Regions from separate parts of the Homo sapiens genome. Here region 1 is linked to region 2. The links come from fine-mapping of genetic effects on gene expression. A gene starts in region 2. The other region holds a variant in brackets. All regions are shown on one strand. Distances are between the middles of the regions.

Region 1 (4,383 bases), 160 kb after region 2:
CTGGCTCTCATCTTCTTAGTGTCATACCCACACGGGTCAGCCTGGTGATCAGGGCTTGCTGGGCCTTAGTGACCTGCCATTGCTCTCCCAGCCCCACTCATAGAGCCTGGGTTCCCAACACCTGTGTCTCTCACCCAGCCCAGACACACCAGCAAGCCCAGTGCTTGGCTCACACCTTTGCCCAAGACAGTCCCTCTGCTGGCTATACCCTTCTTGACTGTGGCTTTGTGCTTACTTTTCTTAAGGACAAAGAAATATAATACATCTCACTTATAATCACCTTTTTTTTTTTTTTTTGAGACAGAGTCTTGTTCTGTCACTCAGGCTGAAGTGCAGTGGTGTGATCTCGGCTCACTGCAAACTCTGCCCCCTGAGTTCAAGCAATTCTCCTGCCTTAGCCTCCCAAGTAGCTGGAATTACAGGTGTAAGCCACCATGCCCAGCTAATTTTTGTATTTTTAGTAGAAATGTGGTTTCACTGTATTGCCCAGGCTGGTCTGGAACTCCTGGCCTCAATTGATCTGCCCGCCTCAGCCTCTCAAAGTGCTGGGATTCCAGGTGTGAGCCATTGTTCCCGGCCTATAATCACATATTTAAAAATAACAAGCATAATGTTTTGTGCAAACTTTAAATTACAGTATATATGCATTTAAACAATAAAGTCTGGGCGCGTGGCTCACACCTGTAATCCCAGCACCTTGGGAGGCCAAGGCAGGTGGATCACCTAAGGTTGGGAGTTCAAGGCCAGCCTGACCAACATGGAGAAACCCCCACTCTACTAAAAATACAAAAATTAGCCAGGCGTGGTGGCGCATGCCTGTAATCCCAGCTACTCGGGAGGCTGAGGCAGGAGAATCGCTTGAACCTGTGAGGCCGAGCTTGCGGTGAGCCAAGATCGCATCATTGCACTCCAGCCTGGGCAACAAGAGCAAAACTGTGTCTTAAAAAAAACCAAAACAACAACAACAACAAAAAACGATAAAAAGTGAGCTACCGTGCCGGGCACAGTAGCTCACCTGTAATCCCAGCACTTTGGGAGGCTGAGGCGGGTGGATCACCTGAGGTCAGGAGTTCGAGACCAGCCTGGCCAACATGGTGAAACCCCGTCTGTACTAAAAATACAAAAATTACCCGGGCGAGGTGTCACACGCCTCTAATCCCAGCTACTCAGGAGACTAAGGCAGGAGAATCGCTTGAACCCAGGAAGCGAAGGTTGCAGTGAGCCCAGATCACGTCATTGTACTCCAGCCTGGGTGACAAGAACAAAACTCTGTCTCCAAAACAATAACAACAACAAAACAAATGAATAAAACTAATTCTATTCATTTGCTTTTATTTATTTATATTTAACTTTATTATTATTATTATTATTTTGAGACAGAGTCTCATTCTGTCACCCAGGCTGGAGTGCAATGATGCGATCTCGCCTCATGCAACCTCCATCTCCCGGGTTCAAGCGATTCTCCTGTCTCAGCCTCCCAGGTAGCTGGGGTTACAGGTGTGCAGCACCACACCTGGCTAATTTTTTTATTTTGAGTGGAGATTGGGTTTCATCATGTTGGCCAGGCTGGTCTCGAACGCCTGACCTCAAGTGATCCGCCCACCTTAGCCTCCCAAAGTGTGGGGAGCCACTGTCCCGGCGTATTATTACTTTTAGAGACGAGGTCTTGCTTTGTTTTCCAGGCTGGAGTACAGTGGCTCAATCATAGCTCACTGCAGCCTCAAACTCCTGGCCTCAAGCAATCCTCCTACTTCAGCCTCCCAAAGTGCTGAGATTATAGGTGTGAGCCACTGCACCCGGCCTCTCTATTCTCTACTTCCTCTTTCTGGAATTTCTATTAGGCGGATGTTGAATCTCCTGAATTAATCTCTAATTTTCTTCCCTTCCCATTCCCTTCCCTTTCCCTTCCCCTTCCCTTCCCTTCCCCTTCTCTTCCCCTCCCCTCCCCTCTCCTCCCTTCCCCTCTCCTCCCCTCCCTTCCCTTCCCTCCTTCCTTTCTCTCTTTCTCTCTCTCGTTCTCTCTTTCTTTCCTTTTTCGTCTCATTCTGTCACCCAGGCTGGAGTGCAGTGGCACTTCTCAGCTCATGGAAACCTCTGCCTCCCGGGCTCAAGCAATTCTCATGTCTCAGCCTCCCGAGTAGCTGGGATTACGGGTGCACACCACCACACCTGGCTGATTTTTGTATTTTTTTCGTAGAGACAGGGTTTTGCCATGTTGGCCGGGCTGGTCTTGAACTCCTGACCTCGGGTGATCCACCCACCTCAGCCTCCCAAAGTGCTGGGATTACAGGTGTGAGCCACCGTGCCCAGCCTTAACTACCATATTTTAAATTTACTGGAGGACTTTTTTGTTCTCTTTTTTTCTTTTTTTAATAGCATCCCGCTCTTATTTCAGAATAAAAAAATTTTTAAGGTATGTTGAGTAAGAATCTATAGAGCAATGAAAATGCAAGAGCAATAGCTATGGGCACCAAATGGTCAATCTTCTTATCATAATGTTGAGTGGAAGAAGCCAGGTCCACCAGACACATGCTGCTCATTTATGCAAAGTTTGGACACAGGCAAAACAAAACTAGTTTGATC[A/G]TGATGGGAAACATTAGAGAAATGCAAAGACATGACCATCATAATTGTCAGGAGAAGGCATTGGTTAGGATTGGGAAGCGGCAAGCAGAAGCATCTAGGGATTGGCTGGCAATATTTTACTTCTCGGCTGAGTGAGGGTTGCATCGGTGTTTATTTGATAACACGTTCTAGGGGCTGGGCAAGATGGCTCATGTTTGTAGTCCCAGTACTTTGGGAGGCCAAAGATGGGAGGATTGCTTGAGCCCGTGAGTTTGAGACCAGCCTGGGTGACATAGCGAAACCCTGTTTCTAAAAAAATTAAAAAAAAAAAAAAAAAAACTAGTTGCACGTGGTGGCACAGCCTCAAACTCCTGGGCTCAAGCGATCCTCCCTTGGCCTTCCAGCCACTCAGGAGGCTAGGGTGGGAGGATCGCTTGTACCCAGGAGTTTGAGGCTGCAGTGAGCTATGAATGAGCCACTGCACTCCAGCCTGGGCAACAGGGCAAGACCCTGTCTCAAAAAAAAAAAAATAATTTGAACACTTCTGTTTTGTGCAGTTTTCTCTGTTATATTTTACTTTTTAAAAAGAAAAAGCGGCCGGGCGCGGTGGCTCACACCTGTAATCCCAGCACTTTGGGAGGCCAAGGTGGGAGGATTGCTTGAGGCCAGGAGTTAAAGATCAGTCTGGGCACCATAGCAAGATCCCATCTCTACAAAAAATAAATTTTAGAAAATTGAAGGGCTATTTGTTCTTCCCCTCCCTAGCATTCTGTTCTTGTGCAATGGAAAAGAAAGTATTGAATACAGCCGGGCACAGTGGCTCACGCCTGTAATCCCAGCACTTTGGGGGGCCAAGGCGGGCGGATCACCTGAGATTGGGAGTTCAAGGCCAGCCTGACCAACATAGAGAAACCCTGTCTCTACTAAAAACACAAAAAATTAGCCGGGCGTGGTGGCACATGCCTGTAATCCCAGCTACTCGGGAGGCTGAGGCAGGAGAATCGCTTGAACCTAGGAGGCGGAGGTTGCAGTGAGCTGAGATCGCACCACTGCACCCCAGCCTGGGCAACAAGAGTGAAACTCCATCTCAAAAAAAAAAAAAAAGGTACATGAAACATATGAAGCAAAAAGTGAAAGTCCCCATTCTTTTCCTTTTTCCAGAGGTGATTTTTGTGGCCAATCTGGTTTCATTTCCTCCCAGACACTTTTCTAGGCATCTATGTGCCTCTATTCACATATAAACAAAATAGGAGTTTTCCTGTGCTTCCCTTAAATGGCATATGTATCATTCACTCTATTTTTTCACCTAGTGGATCTTTAATACCTTAAAAGCTCAACCTGGGCTTGGTGCGGTGGCTCATACCTGTAATCCCAGGCCTTTGGGAGGCCAAGGTGGGAGGATCACTTGAGCGCAGGAGTTCCAGACCATTCCAAAGCCAAAAAAAAAAAGGAGTTTGAGATCAGCGTGGGCAAGTTAGCAAAACACCATCTCTAAAAAAAAAAAAAAAAAAAAAAAAAAATTAGCCAGGCATGGTGGTGTAAGCCTGTAGTCCCAGCTACTTGAGAGGCTGAGGTGGGAGGATTGTTTGAACCCAGGAGGTTGAGGCTACAGTGAGCTGTGATTGTGCCACTGCACTCCAGGCTGGGTAATGCAGCGAGACTGTGTCTCAAAAAATAAATAAAATAAAAAATAAATAAAAGCTCCACCTGTCTTCCTTTTAGATGTTGCATAGCATTTCACACAGTATTGATGTATTACAGCTCAACTAAATTAATCCCAGTATCTAGCACATGGGGTGGTGGGAAGGATTAAGGGAGATA
Region 2 (4,383 bases):
GTGTTGGGGATCACAGGCTTTAGCCACTGTGCCTGGCGGCTGTAATTATTTTAAAAGAAGTTTTCTTCTTTCTTTCTTTTTTTATTTATTTTATATTTATTTTTGAGATGGAGTCTCACTCTTATCACCCAAGCCGGAGTGCAGTGGAGCAATCTTGGCTCACTGCAACCTCTGCCTCCCAGGTTCAAGTGATTCTCCTGCCTCAGCCTCCCGAGTAGCTGGGATTAGAGGCGTGGGACACCACGCCCAGCTAATTTTTGTACTTTTGGTAGAGACGGGGTTTCGCCATGTTGGCCAGAGACGGGGTTTCACCATGTTGGCCAGGCTGGTCTCGAAGTCCTGACCTCAGGTGATCCTCCCGCCTCGGCCTCCCAAAGTGCTGGGATTACAGGCATGGGCCACCGCACCCGGCCTTAAAAGAAGTTTTCTGGCCGGGCGCGGTGGCTCAAGCCTGTAATCCCCCAAGCACTTTGGGAGGCCGAGGCGGGCAGATCATGAGGTCAGGAGATCGAGACCATCCTGGCTAACACGGTGAAATCCCGTCTCTACTAAAAATATTTTTAAAAAATTAGCCGGGCGTGGTGGCGGGCGCCTGTAATCCCAGCTACTCGGGAGGCTGAGGCAGGAGAATGGCATAAACCCAGGAGGCGGAGGTTGCAGTGAGCCGAGATCGCGCCACTGCGCTCCAACCTGGGCAATAGAGCAAGACTCTGTCTCAAAAAAAAAAATAAGTTTTCTATGAAAAAATTTCCTGGTCTGGGCCAGTCGCGGTGGCTCACACCTGTAATCCCAGCACTTTGAGAGGCTGAGGCGGGCGGATCACGAGGTCAGGAGTTCAAGACCAGCCTGACCAATATAGCGAAACCCCGTCTCTACTAAAAAATACAAAAAATTAGCGGGGCATGCTAGCGGGCACCCGTAATCCCAGCTACTCGGGAGGCTGAGGCAAGCGAATCGCTTGAACCCGGGAGGCAGAGGTTGCAGTGAGCAGAGATGGCGCCATTGCACTCCAGCCTGGGCGACAGTGCAACGAGACTCCATCTCAAAAAATAAAAAATAAAAATAATCTCCCAGCTCGGCATGGTGGCTCACGCCTGTAATCCCAGCACTTTGGGAGGCCGAAGCAGGTGGATCACCTGAGGTCAGGAGTTCGAGACCAGCCTGGCCAACATGGCAAAACCCCCGTCTCTATAAAAAACACAAAAAGTAGCAGGGCATGGTGGCACGCGCCTGTAATCCCAGCTACTCTGGAGGCTGAGGCAGGAGAATCTCTTGCACCCGGGAGACGGAGGTTGCAGTGAGCCGAGACGCGTCACTGCACTCCAACCTGGGCAACCGTCTCAAAAGTAAATACATAAATAAATAAATAAAATAAGTTTTCTATTAAAAATTCTCCCTTTTAACTTTCGACTTGCCAGGCCAGCCCCAAATCCAGGCCCTCGTCACCTCCCTCTCGGATCCTTGAAGCCACTGCCGGTTTTCTGATTTTGGTCTTTTCACACAAAGGTCCATCCAGGGAATCCTCAGACACAGCTTTTGCCCCACCTCTCCCTGTAATGAGCAGCTTGTTGGATGGAGCCAGCGCTCAACGTCCCCCAGACCTTTCCGCCCCTCTAGCCATTTCCCACATCCCAGCTTCTCAGGTCTTTGCGGAGGCTGTTCCACTCCACGCGCCTGGCCTACTCTTCCTTAAAAGCCCATCTGAACTTTCGCTGATGCTGAGTTTCCTATCCGTTAAATGGTAATAATAATCCCCGCCCCGCTTCCTTGAAAGGATCCAGTGTGGTGATGGCTGGAATAATGCCTTTAATAAACAATTATCAGTGAGTTCTTCAGGAGGAGGCGTGAGCAGTGATCGCAAATCCCGCCTTCCTCCGCCCTCCGCAGCCCTGCAATCTCAACCGCCAGGCGACCCGCCCCTCGAAACGCACCAAGGGTCGAGCCCTGCCCCTCGAGATGTTCTACTTCCAGGCCCCGCCCCTCGAGACACTCTACCTCCGGGTTCTGCCCCTCGAGACGCTCTAACAACCCAGCCCCGCCCCTCGAGACGCGCTAACTCCAGACTCTGCCTCTCGAGGCGCTCTAATAACTAGGCTCGGCGGGTGGAGATGCTCTAACTCCAGGCCCCGCCCCTCGAGCGCCACAACAGCCGGGCCCCACCCCTTGAGGTGCTTTAACGGCCAGGCCCCGCCCTGAAGGCGTTGTAACAACCAGGCTCCGCCCCCAGGCGCTCTAACGGCCAGGCCCAGCCGCTTGAGGCTCCCCAACGGCCAGGCCGCGCCCCCGCGTGCGTGCGCGGCCCGGCAGAGCCGTGCGGGCGCCCGCGTACTCACTAGCTGAGGTGGCAGTGGTTCCACCAACATGGAGCTCTCGCAGATGTCGGAGCTCATGGGGCTGTCGGTGTTGCTTGGGCTGCTGGCCCTGATGGCGACGGCGGCGGTAGCGCGGGGGTGGCTGCGCGCGGGGGAGGAGAGGAGCGGCCGGCCCGCCTGTAAGTGGGGCCGGGTCGGGTGGGGGCGGCCCGCGGTGTCCCGGCTCCCGGCCTCCTCGTGGTCCGACCTGCGGTTTGGGCCCGCGGCTGGTGGGGCCCGGCGACTCCATGGGCCTCAGTTTCTCCTCTGGTAACGTGAGCTTCGCTTCCAGAGACGGGGACCCGCCTTGCCGGGTTAGGCGCACCTCCTGGGGCGGGACTGGCTCCAACCTGGGCCCCTTACTGCGGCTTTCTCTGTGGCCGAGGCCAGGCCGTCCCCGGGGTGGCCAGGAGAGCACCGTAAACTCTTCAGCCTGCTCCGTGGCCGCGATCTCGGAAAAAGCACCAATTCTGTGATGTGCAGCAGCATTTACTGGGCATCTATGACCCTGTGATAGGCTTTGGGGTCTTTTTCTGTAAGGAGTCCAGTAAAGGAGAAGTACATCTGTATTATGAACACCTAAATATGTAAGTGAAAAACACGGTGAAATAAGTTTCACTGAGGCCAGGCGAAGTGGCTCACGCCTGTATTCCCAGCACTTTGGGAGGCCGAGGCAGGGAGATCGCTTGAGCCCAGGAGTTTGGGACCAGCCTGAGCAACATAGCAAGACCCCATCTCTACGCAAAATTAGCTGGGTGTGGTTGTGCACGCCCCTGTAGTCCCAGCTCCATGGGAGGCCGAGGCAGGAGGGTGTCGTGAGTCCAGGAATTCAAGGCTGCAGTGAGTTGTGATAGATCGCGCCACTGTACTTCAGCCTGGGTGACGGCAAGAGCCTGTCTCTGAAAAGTTTCATAGAAGAGGTTAGTACTAGAAATGGGAAACACCAGAGAGTCAGTGGGCAGCCCTGCTCTTTTTATTTATTTTTCAGACAGAGTTTCGCTCTTCTTGCCCAGGCTGGAGTGCAGTGGCACAATCTTGGCTCGTTGCAACTTCCGCCTGCCAGGTTCAAGCGATTCTTCTGCCTCTGCCTCCCGAGTAGCTGGGACTACAGGCACACACCACCACGCCTGGCTAATTTTTGTATATTTAGTAGACGGGGTTTCGCCACGTTGGTCAGGCTGGTCTCGAACGCCTGATCTCAGGTGATCCACTCGTCCTGGCCTCCAAAAGTGCTGAGATTACAGGCGTGAACCACTGTGCCCGGCCAGCCCTGCATTTTTTTTTTTTTTTTTTTTGCAGGGGGACGGAGTTTTGCTCTGTCGCCCAATCTGGAGTCTAGTGGCGGGATCTCGGCTCACTGCAAGCTCCGCCTCTGGGTTCACGCCATTCTCCTGCCTCAGCCTCCTGAGTAGCTGGGACTACAGGCGTCCGACACCACACCCGGCTAATTTTTTGTATTTTTTGAGTAGAGACGGGGTTTCACTGTGTTAGCCAGGATGGTCTCAATCTCCTAACCTCTTGTGATCCACCTGCCTCGGCCTCCCAAAGTGCTGGGATTACAGGCGTGAGCCACCCTGCCTGGCCGAGTCCTGTTCTTTTATGGGGGAGGTGGTTGTTAGGGAAATCATTACTGAGAATAGGGGGCACATGAGGTAGTGTGGGGTCTCAAAGGATGGTTCTAGAAGAAGAGTTTGCCAGAAGGCCAAGGAAAAAAGACATTCCTGCCAATGGCAATACCCGAGAAGGCAAGGAGTCCCCAAACAGCATTTGGTATGACTTAAGTGTGAGGAGGGGGGCTTGTTAGACATGCCTGGAGAGAAGGAAGCAGAGGACAGATTGTGGCTGTGTTTGTTTGCAGGGCCCAGGAGCTTTTTTCCTGTTGGAATTGGGGAGCATCTGCAGTCATTTACCACATGCCAGCTTTGTGACTCAATTAAGTATCTTTTACAAAAGTGACTGGCTCCACTCCCCCGCACAGGACTCAACAGATGTTGACTTCTCATCCCCGAGTTCTTTCAGGTACTGGAGTGCA

Which allele goes with the higher level. Alleles are on the strand shown, and positions count from the first base shown. SD is a standard deviation of normalised expression in the study named.
For the expression in subcutaneous fat of the gene that starts at base 2,332 in region 2, G is the high allele of the variant in region 1 and A is the other (large effect, 1.1 SD a copy in FUSION).

The links. PIP is the estimated chance that this variant, and not a neighbour inherited with it, causes the effect.
Region 1: its variant is the best candidate, but not a certain one, in a credible set for the expression of TBL2 in subcutaneous fat (FUSION, PIP 0.59).

What each region holds. Positions count from the first base shown.
Region 1 is chr7:73,413,616-73,417,998 of GRCh38, reverse strand. No RefSeq gene overlaps it. Among named protein-coding and RNA genes, the nearest start is that of FZD9, 18 kb to the left of the region's middle. The variant A/G (reference allele first, on the strand shown) is at 2,584.
Region 2 is chr7:73,576,528-73,580,910 of GRCh38, reverse strand. It overlaps TBL2 (transducin beta like 2), which reads left to right and starts at 2,332. Exons shown (of 7, transcript NM_012453.4): 1 at 2,332-2,491. The coding sequence starts at 2,362. RefSeq lists an enhancer at 1,681-1,750 and a silencer at 2,081-2,720.